3 linked regions of the Homo sapiens genome follow. The protein of the gene in region 1 purifies or fractionates together with the protein of each later gene. This does not show direct contact. Each region holds a gene or a part of one and is shown on either strand. Other genes may lie near its edges. The genes, in order: ZSCAN4, RNF20 and ZNF217.

Region 1 (3,654 bases):
TTTTAGTAGAGATGGGGTTTCACCATATTGGTCAGGCTGGTCTCGAAATCCTGACCTCAGGTGATCCACCTGCCTCAGCCTCCCAAAGTGTTGGGATTACAGGCATGAGCAACCACACCCGGCAAGTTTTGTATTTTTAGTAGAGATGGTGCCTCACCATGTTGGCCAGGCTAGTCTCGAACTCCTGACCTCAAGTGATCCGCCCTCCTCGGCCTCCCACAGTTCTGGGATTATAGGAGTGAGCCACTGTGCCCAGCCAAGGATATTTCCTAATAGTTCTAGTTTATTAAGTGCCTTTTTCAGGAATAAACATTGGCATTTAAACATTTTAAATGCATTCATTGAGATGATTTTATTATGTTCTTGTATCCATATCCCGTTAACGAAGTAAATTGCATTGATTTTTGAATTTTAACCCAAACTTCCTGCATTTTGGAAATGAACACCATTTGCGATGTATATGTGAGTAGATTTTATTTTCAAATATTTTGTTTTGGATAATTTTAATGTATTTGTAAAATTTTGTTATCAGGAAGTGCTGACCTCAGTAACTAAAGTGGGTAGTGCTTCCTCTTATATGCTCTGGGAGAGTTTATGTTAAGTTATAATTATTTCTTTGAATTCATCCATAGAGCCATGTAGGCCTAACTTTTTGGTTGATTTGTCTTTAATTATGCCAGTGGTGCAATTAATTACTCATCTCTTTTCTATTTCTAGCTTGCAGTTTTAAAGAATCCACCAACTGTTGAAACAAATCCCTAGAGACACAAGGCAAGAGACTGAATCATCAAAGTAAAGTCTCTCTGAGAATTATTGCTAAGAATGGCTTTAGATCTAAGAACCATATTTCAGTGTGAACCATCCGAGAATAATCTTGGATCAGAAAATTCAGCGTTTCAACAAAGCCAAGGACCTGCTGTTCAGAGAGAAGAAGGGATTTCTGAGTTCTCAAGAATGGTGCTCAATTCATTTCAAGACAGCAATAATTCATATGCAAGGCAGGAATTGCAAAGACTTTATAGGATCTTTCACTCATGGCTGCAACCAGAAAAGCACAGCAAGGATGAAATTATTTCTCTATTAGTCCTGGAGCAGTTTATGATTGGTGGCCACTGCAATGACAAAGCCAGTGTGAAAGAGAAATGGAAATCAAGTGGCAAAAACTTGGAGAGATTCATAGAAGACCTGACTGATGACAGCATAAATCCACCTGCCTTAGTGAGTACAGGGTTCTAACTTCTGGGATGAGAGACAAAGGAAAGTAAGGAATAAATCACAGTCAGTTAGAGTTGTCTGGAAGTTAGAGAAGCTATTGGAGGTCCAGTTATTAGTCAGCTCACACTCTCCCACCATTCTCACAAAGAATAATCTTCAATGTCCTAAGTTCTCAAGAAAAAAAGCAAAAAGGTATATATCTGTTTATTCTGTAGGACATATAGGAGCCAAACATATTGATGTTTGATTAACTTAATTTTAGTCTGCATAATGGCAGACTCTGAGAAATTGACTTTTTGGCATGATATCAGCTCACTGCAACCTATGCCTCCCAGGCACAAGTCATTCTCGTGGCTCAGCCTCCAGAGTAGCTGGGATTACAGGCGTGCTCCACCAAGGCCGGCTAATTTTTGTATTTTTAATAGAGACAGCGTTCCACCATGTTGGCCAGGCGGTCTCGAACTCCTGGCCTCAAGTGATCCGCCTGCCTTGGCCTCCCAAAGTGCTAGGATTACAGGTGTGAGACCAGCCTGAAATTGACATTTAAATGAAGACATCAAGGTTGAGGAAGAAATGTCTTGACAAGAGCTTGTTCTTCTGTCAGGGAACTCTAATCAAGAAAGACATTCTAAAGAAGCAATTACGGTAGATCCTTATTCTCAGAGCCCATATTTGCAAAATTGCTAAAATTTATTTGTAAGCTTAAAATAAATACCTGAGGCATCTTCTCCGTCATTTTCAGATATGTGCAGGTGGTAAAATATTTGATTTACCTTAGGTGCATGTTTCCAGGTGAGGTTGAACAAGGCCACAACCTCACTTCCTATTTTGGTTCCTACAGTGTAAATAAGTGTCCTTTTCACAGTCTATTTAGTGGCACATTTTTTTTTTTGCTTTTTATTGATAACTTTGTTGTTTAAAGTGACACTGAAGTAAAATGCTGAAACACTGTCTAGTCTTCCTAAGTGCAGGAAAGTTGCTATGTATTATGGAGATAATACATGTGTTGGATCCTCTGAGTTCAGGATTAATCAATAATATATATTAAATGGGGTGTCTTTGAACATATACACACATAAAACAAACTCATGTATTGATCAGTTGACAAAAATAATGTAGCCAGAAGCTCACAGGAAACTAACCCTGAATTTTTCCTAGGGGAAATGATTCAGTACTTGTAAATTCAATGTCCATGTGACTTTATTAAACATAAGAGCTTGTAGTAACAAGAATAACACCATCAGAGATGGTGGACAAAATATGTGATAGCCAATACTTGAGGGAGCTTGTGAGAGCCTGTTAAGGACCACTTTTCCAAAAAGTCTTCTGTTACACAACAGATTCAGATACAACAGTGATCTGGCTTTCTTTACAGGTCCACGTCCACATGCAGGGACAGGAAGCTCTCTTTTCTGAGGATATGCCCTTAAGAGATGTCATTGTTCATCTCACAAAACAAGTGAATGCCCAAACCACAAGAGAAGCAAACATGGGGACACCCTCCCAGACTTCCCAAGATACTTCCTTAGAAACAGGACAAGGTAAGTCAGGTGAATCTGCACAACTGAGGAGTGTTCTATGTGGACCCCTTCTTAAGTACAACTTCATTGAGTGTCTATTTTCACAGGATATGAAGATGAACAAGATGGCTGGAACAGTTCTTCGAAAACTACTCGAGTAAATGAAAATATTACTAATCAAGGCAATCAAATAGTTTCCCTAATCATCATCCAGGAAGAGAACGGTCCTAGGCCTGAAGAGGGAGGTGTTTCTTCTGACAACCCATACAACTCAAAAAGAGCAGAGCTAGTCACTGCTAGATCTCAGGAAGGGTCCATAAATGGAATCACTTTCCAAGGTGTCCCTATGGTGATGGGAGCAGGGTGTATCTCTCAACCAGAGCAGTCCTCCCCTGAGTCTGCCCTTACCCACCAGAGCAATGAGGGAAATTCCACATGTGAGGTACATCAGAAAGGATCCCATGGAGTCCAAAAATCATACAAATGTGAAGAATGCCCCAAGGTCTTTAAGTATCTCTGTCACTTATTAGCTCACCAGAGAAGACACAGGAATGAGAGGCCATTTGTTTGTCCCGAGTGTCAAAAAGGCTTCTTCCAGATATCAGACCTACGGGTGCATCAGATAATTCACACAGGAAAGAAGCCTTTCACATGCAGCATGTGTAAAAAGTCCTTCAGCCACAAAACCAACCTGCGGTCTCATGAGAGAATCCACACAGGAGAAAAGCCTTATACATGTCCCTTTTGTAAGACAAGCTACCGCCAGTCATCCACATACCACCGCCATATGAGGACTCATGAGAAAATTACCCTGCCAAGTGTTCCCTCCACACCAGAAGCTTCCTAAGCTGCTGGTCTGATAATGTGTATAAATATGTATGCAAGTATGTATATTCCTATAGTATTTATCTACTTAGGA
Region 2 (3,654 bases), on another chromosome or scaffold:
GCCTCCTAAATTTTACAATTTTACTCCCTCATGTGCAATTAATCTCTCATTCATTCAGCTGTCATTCATAGAGTGGCAGTAGGTCTTTACTCTGGTAGGTACTGGGCATATAAAGATGAGATGACAAAATTCCTGCCCTCACAGATCTTGTAGTCTGCAGTAATGGGAGAATAGTATCCATTAGAATGCAATGTGGTACAATGGCAGCATAGCCAAAAGATGTGATACATGAGAAAAGAGTGTCTGATTTGACTGTGGAAGTTTCCTGATTCCACTTAAAAAAGTAAGGTATAAATATTAAGGATAAATTATTGGTAGTTGAAAGTAGGAGAAGAAGAATTCCCGGCATGAGAACAGCACATATAAAGGTATGAGAGAGCATGAGAAATAGTTTAATATGGCTAGAGCTTACGTGTATGTGAGAAAATAGTGGGTAGAAGCTGCAAAATTACTTACATTTCTTAAACAAAAAGCATATAATGGCACCAGTAGATGATTTTTTTAAAAGATAGAAACTTTTATTCATATGTTCATTTCTGTATCTTCCATAGTTTTTAAGGTAATGGTTATAATAGTTGGTCTTTTAATATATGCCTGACAAATGAATTGAATACTATTTTACATATGTTTATATACTGTTTTATAGTTTAGTTCTCCAACTAAATTCTAATATTCTCAGAATTGGTGGCCATTTTCTTTATTTTTCAGTATCCTGTCAGTTTCCAAATTAGTCTTTTGTAGATATCTGGTTTCATTACGTATAGATTGAACTGGAAATTTTCAGAGTAATCCATAGAATATGATGATATTTCTACATTTTAATAAGAATTTTTTTATTGGTTCCTTTATCTGTGTGTAGCGAGATGAGGTTAGTCTTCATAAGAAGCTGAGGACTGAAGTAATTCAGCTAGAAGATACATTGGCCCAGGTCCGCAAGGAGTATGAAATGCTGAGGATAGAATTTGAGCAGACCCTTGCTGCCAATGAACAAGCAGGTATAATGATTCTCACTCCATGCTGTAGTTTGCTCTTAATACCTTCCTTGAAAGATACAACACAGACCCCAGGGTTTGTTAATGCTGACTTCAACTCAGAAGTCATAAGTACCTTAAATCCTATAATTCATTTTGGTTCACAGCCTGGATGTTTGTTTTTTAACTCAAGTTGACCAGTTTTGTTTTCATCTTCTGAGAAGGAATCTTTTATTTGGTAATTCTCCCTATTTCTCAGTGCCTCCTGATGTGTTCTGTTCTTTCTCTCCTTGTGCCTTTGCCCTTACCACGGTTCCTCATAACATTGTTGTTCCTGTATTTAAGGCCCTATAAACAGGGAGATGCGCCACCTCATCAGTAGCCTCCAGAATCACAATCACCAGCTGAAAGGGGAGGTCCTGAGATATAAGCGGAAATTGAGAGAAGCCCAGTCTGACCTGAACAAGGTAACCAGAGGGAATAGAATAAATATCATTTGCTATTAATGTCGTAAAGCTGCTTTTGAATGAGGTCGGCAATGTGGTTATCATAAGAGATGTGCATCTTTCTTTTCTTTATTCTCCCAGACACGCCTGCGTAGTGGTAGTGCCCTCCTGCAGTCCCAGTCTAGTACTGAGGACCCGAAGGATGAGCCTGCGGAGCTAAAACCAGATTCTGAGGACTTATCCTCCCAGTCCTCAGCTTCAAAGGCATCTCAGGAGGATGCCAATGAAATCAAGTCTAAACGGGATGAAGAAGAACGAGAACGAGAAAGGAGGGAGAAGGAGAGGGAACGAGAAAGAGAACGGGAGAAGGAGAAGGAGAGAGAACGAGAGAAGCAGAAGCTAAAAGAGTCAGAAAAAGAGAGAGATTCTGCTAAGGATAAAGAGAAAGGCAAACATGATGATGGACGGAAAAAGGAAGCAGAAATTATCAAACAATTGAAGATTGAACTCAAGTAAGAACCACATTTAGAGTAACAGTTTCGACTGAAAAGCTAAGATTAAGACATCATGCATGAAATGTTTGGTTGATGGCATGGCTTGTCTGATCGTTTTAATGTTTTAGATTGTACAATTAATTTGGTTTCAAGTCGTGTTCAAGTGCACAGCCAAAATGGCTTGCATGGCTATTTAGTACTTTGGTTCAGTGATCGAGTATCAGCAAACCGATGATGGTAGCCTTATTTTTATGAATCCAAATTAAGGAAAAGGATGTCATGATTGAGGTAATACTTCTGAGAATTATTGGGAATTAACTACTGCTCTTCACTGGATTTGAGCAGATTGCTGGCGTTAATTGTAATTTAAATGATATTAAGTGGAGTATTTATATATCACTGTAACTTGAACAATATCTGATCTATTTGCCTGAGAGTTAACTGGTTTGTGAATATGCCATATCTTTCTTAGGAGATTTACTCCTATACACATTGACACACTAAGATAGACCTTTAACTTGTTGAATTTTTCTGTGTCATAACCTTATGCATTGGCCCTTCTCCTGTATAACCAATAACTTCTCTGGCAGAACGGCTTACTTCTTGCTCCTTACTTTCTATGGTTGATCCTTTGTTGATGTTTGGACTTGAGAGACCACTGTGCTCAAAATGCTTGAACTCTTTTGGTATATAAAAGTATAGTTAAGAGGTTTAGTAATTTAATAAGAGGTGAAGTTTTAGTCTTTGGCTGATGGTTAATCACTCAGCTGTCAAATCTAGGATTAACAGTATATCTCAGACTTTCAAATTTTTCCCTTTTATTTCTCCCTCTTGAACTCTTTAAGGCAATTTTTTTTTTTTCTGGTGTGGTATCAGAATCATCTGAGTGACTTGTTTAAATCACTTGTTTAAATTTTTGAACTCCATCCCCAGACCTACTGAATCTCAGTTACCCAGGGTTGGGGGCCACAGAAATTTGCCTATATAACAAGTACACAAATGTCTGTTTTATAACTTTGTTAGAGGACTTTGAAGGGAGAAATGATTCATTTTTATACAGCTTACTTTTCTGTACTTTCTAAGCATATCCAAAAGTCTTTTGATAGTCTGTGCAAAATTTTATCTTTTAGGTGTGATATGAAATGTAAAATGAAACTGTTTTAAAATATTCTGCTCAATCAAAATTCCCTTGCTCTGATGACCTTTATTTTCTTATTACATTGTTCCCCTCCCTCTACTACGCCTGTCATAGGAAGGCACAGGAGAGCCAAAAGGAGATGAAACTATTGCTGGATATGTACCGTTCTGCCCCAAAGGAACAGAGAGACAAAGTTCAGCTGATGGCAGCTGAGAAGAAGTCTAAGGCAGAGGTATTCTAGTCTGCTATTACCTGTCCTTCTGGTTAAAATCTTCATTTGTGGGATTTTCCTTTATACTTGCCAACGATATAATTTCTTTCTTTATCTTTAAAATAAGTGTTTAAGTGCAACATTTTCTGCCTTTTCAAAGACCATCTGAAGTAGAGATTTTAAAACTCTCCATAGGATGGTAAAATATATCTGAATTACTGGGGTTATGAGTAGGCTTTCCAAAGTATGTATTCCTTGTTTTTCCTATGTAATTCATTGCTACAGGGATAATCTTTTTCATTACTTTTGGGAGGAATGTCTTATGCTCTTAAAATTTTGAGGCCTAAAAAAAAGGATGGGAACCACTATTCTAAAGAAAGTTACCTGTGCACTT
Region 3 (3,654 bases), on another chromosome or scaffold:
TGCCATGCACAAGAAAATCCCAGCTACTCAGGAGGCTGTGGTGGGAGGACTGCTTGAGCCCAGGAGTTTGAGGCTGCAGTGAGCCAAGATCGTGCCACTGCACTCCAGACCCTGTCTCAGACAAACAAAACCAATATGTGAGCTGGTCCAGAGGATGAGAAAGAAGAGGCTGGAAAGCAAAGACAGAGCAGGCAGGATGTTCTCCAGATGAAGGAAACACAAGCAGAGAAGCTCAGAGCTCCCAGAGAGACACCAGCTCCAGATACAGGAGCATGGCTGTTTGCTACTACTGATCAGTTGTAATGGATGCTTCGAGTAACCTGTTACTAAAATCTGCTCCTCATAATTCATAAATTATTTTTATGTTTTAATATAGAGTGGACTGGATCTTATTCCTGTGATGACAAAGCTTTACTCCCTCATGTTCTTCATCTATTATCCTAAGCAGGAGAAAAGACTGCAGAACCACACAAGGCTCACGCTGCCCAGGGAGAACGTCATCTCAGTTCCCATATGAGTCCCGATGAAAATATGACAGAGAAATTCTGTCCTGGACCACGAGCATCTTTTCATCTTCGTATCCTAGCAGCCAGCAGGCACTTGGTGAAGAGGCTGCTCAACGAATATACAGTGACGGTTTTACGGGACAAGAGTTACCTGAGGAACAACTAAATCTGCCCGTGAGCCCCAAGCTTTCCATTTAATCTTATTGTTGAATGAGTCATAGTATAACCTGTACACAGACATCACACCTTCTGCCCAAACTAATTAACTAAATATAAACTAACAAAACCAACATGCATAATTCTGATACTACTACTTGAGCCTTACGGGACGGCGGTGCACTACAGTGAGACCTTTAACATGTGAACCACATGCTCACATACTTGCTCCTGTCCCAGTTCCCCTCCTTGGCAGATAAGTACTTATCTTGGCAGATAAGTACTTGCCAAGTCTTTGAACAAGTTCTTAAACTAGAACGTTGGGCATAGAGCCTGGATCTTTGCAGACCTAGGACAAAAACCAGGCTCCTGCCTCTCACAGGCAGAGCGGGGCTTTGAGCAAACTGCATAATCCATGCCTCGGTCTCATCTGAAAAGCATGCACAGTACCTCCTAATGCTGGGTCACAAACTTTTTCTGTAAAGGGCCAGACGGTAAATAGTTTCAGCTTTGCAGGCCACGTGGTCTGTCACAACTGCCCGACATTGCTGCTGCAGCAAGGAGGTAGCCACAGACAATATGTAACAGATGGGCATGATCATGTTCCAATAAAACTTTATTGATGATGATGCATGAAAAGCTAGTTTGCTCATCCCTTACCTAAGCCCTCTGCTGCAACAGAATTAAATGAGATCCTGATAATAAAACACTTCATTCAATGCCTAGCACAAAGTAAATGCTCAGTAAATTCCAGTCACTATGACTGTTTTCCTATTATCTTCAGTAATATCCAAAGATCCTGAGGACTCTAATTTTAAAACACCTAAAAAATCAAAATCCAACTTAAAAGCAATTTTGTTACATTATATTAGACAACTTAATGGTTTATTTCCGATCAAGTAAAATCAATCCCCGCCCCCGCCCCCCCTTTTTTTTAGACTGAGTCTCGCTCTGTCACCCAGGCTAGACCTGCAGTGGCACAATCTGCTCACTGCAACCTCCGCCTCCTGGGTTGTTCAAGTGATTTTCCTGCTTCAGCCTCCTAAGTAGCTGGGACTACAGGCACCCGCCACCACGCCCAGCTAAATTTGTGTATTTTTAGTACAGACAGGGGTTTCACCATGTTGGCCAAGCTGGTCTCAAATGCTCGATCTCAGGTGATCCGCCCGCCCTGACCTCCCAAATGGCCACCGCACTCAGCCAATCCAGTGTTTTTAATTGAAACATATGCTCACCTTTTTTCCCCCTAATTAGTGAATCAAGTTTTTTTGTCATTTGGTCGATAATGTGCATTCCCAATAAAATTCTCATAGTTTCTCTTTTGTGCCATGCTGTTAGATAAGTGTTGATATGACACAGGCCTTTTTCCTGATTGAAAAAAAAAACATATTTAGAGTTAAGGTCAAACAATTAGGTAAGATGTGTATAGGTTTTTAGAAGTCAATTTTCAAAATTTCTGACACTGATAATGTAATCAACGCCTAAGTCACACAGTCGCATGCAAGTGTTTTCAGTTACAGCTGAATTGTTTTTATGACACTTGTTAGCACAGAATTTGGTTGATGTCACTAACATTAAAATTGTCTGGGCTGTCACTAGAAAGAATTAAAAAGCCGGAAAAAAATGACATCACAAAATACTTGAAACGTATATGCATCATGAACCAAACTATGTAAAAGTGTTGTTTTTTGCTTTTTTTAAAATCATTTAAAAGGGGATTTGCCAGCATAGGCAACATGGTGAGACCTCTTCTCTACTAAAAATAAAAAATTAGCTGGGTATGGTGACATGCACCTTTAGTCCCAGCTACTCGGGAGGCTGAGACGGAAGGATGGAAGGATTGCTTGAGTCCCGGAGGTCGAGGCTGCAGTGAGCCGTGATTGCCCCCACTGCACTCCAGCCTGGGCAACAGAGTGTGACCCTGTCTCACAGAGGAGGGGAAAAAAAAAAGAGGATCTGACTTGCAACACACAGAGCCTTTTCCCCCTTTAAGTAAAGACAAAGTTTTGATTCATGTCCATTTTAAGCACCATGGGGGGGGAAATGAAGATTTTTAACCAAAAGGCAGTAAAAATTACTATTTCATCACAATTTTTATAAAATCTACTGGAGTGTCTGAAAGCAATTGTTTTTTAATTTGCTATCTCTACTGAACCAATCAGCATCAAGCAATTCTTGACAGAGTGTTGTCACCACACAGAATCCTCAGTTTGAAACTAACACAAACTGAAATGTGCAAAACTGAATCTGTTTCTTTGGGGAGCACAAACCAGTAGAGCTTCTATGTGATAAAGGAAGATGCTGCAGTTTGACCGAGTTTGCCAAGGAGAAGATGTCCCTGGGACACTGAGCTACTTTTTTACACATACAGGTATGTGCCAGACACCTGTACGAAGTGACACCACCAGGACACATTTCTATGGGGAAAACCCCAGTCATCTATGAGGTTAACAATCTACCTATGGGGGAAATAAGGTTGGTTTTAAATTAATACAGTTGTCCCTCAGTATCCAGAGGGCACTGGCTCCAGGACCACCCGCCCCCACCACCCCAGCCAACAGATACCAAAATCCATGGATGCTCAGGTCCCTAATATAAAACAGTGTCGTATCTGCAGTATTCATAGTATCTGTAGTACTATTTTTTTTTTTTTTTGAGATGGAGTCTCGCTCTGTCGCCCAGGCTGGAGTGCAATGGCACAATCTCAGCTCACCGCAACCTCCACCTCCCAAGGTTCAAGTGATTCTCTTGCCTCAGCCTCTGGAGTAGCTGGGATTACAGGCATGCGCTACCACACCCAGCTAATTTTGTATTTTTAGCAGAGACGAGGTTTCTCCATTGTTGGTCAGGCTGTTTCCCAAAGTCCTGGGATTACAGGCGTGAGCCACCGCAACTGGCCTTGTAGTACTATTAATTTGCAGTATTGTAGCGTAACCTATTCACATCCTCCCATATACTTTACTTACTTATTATTTATTTATTTATTTGAGAC

Evidence for each region.
Region 2: the proteins of ZSCAN4 (region 1) and RNF20 purify together in Homo sapiens (affinity purification with western blotting, with the first as the bait; one study listed by BioGRID). This does not show direct contact.
Region 3: the proteins of ZSCAN4 (region 1) and ZNF217 purify together in Homo sapiens (affinity purification with mass spectrometry, with the first as the bait; one large-scale study listed by BioGRID). This does not show direct contact.

Annotation. Positions count from the first base shown.
Region 1 is NC_000019.10:57,675,324-57,678,977, forward strand, and holds part of ZSCAN4 (zinc finger and SCAN domain-containing protein 4), read left to right. Parts: intron 1-717; 5' UTR 718-822; coding exon 823-1,218; intron 1,219-2,590; coding exon 2,591-2,756; intron 2,757-2,842; coding exon 2,843-3,582; 3' UTR 3,583-3,654. UniProt on the Homo sapiens protein: Embryonic stem (ES) cell-specific transcription factor required to regulate ES cell pluripotency. Binds telomeres and plays a key role in genomic stability in ES cells by regulating telomere elongation.
Region 2 is NC_000009.12:101,550,825-101,554,478, forward strand, and holds part of RNF20 (E3 ubiquitin-protein ligase BRE1A), read left to right. Parts: intron 1-859; coding exon 860-995; intron 996-1,316; coding exon 1,317-1,438; intron 1,439-1,558; coding exon 1,559-1,929; intron 1,930-3,163; coding exon 3,164-3,281; intron 3,282-3,654. UniProt on the Homo sapiens protein: Component of the RNF20/40 E3 ubiquitin-protein ligase complex that mediates monoubiquitination of 'Lys-120' of histone H2B (H2BK120ub1).
Region 3 is NC_000020.11:53,569,824-53,573,477, forward strand, and holds part of ZNF217 (zinc finger protein 217), read right to left. Parts: intron 3,034-3,654; exon of another isoform or gene 2,825-3,033; intron 2,031-2,824; coding exon 1,921-2,030; 3' UTR 1,898-1,920; intron 681-1,897; exon of another isoform or gene 449-680; intron 1-448.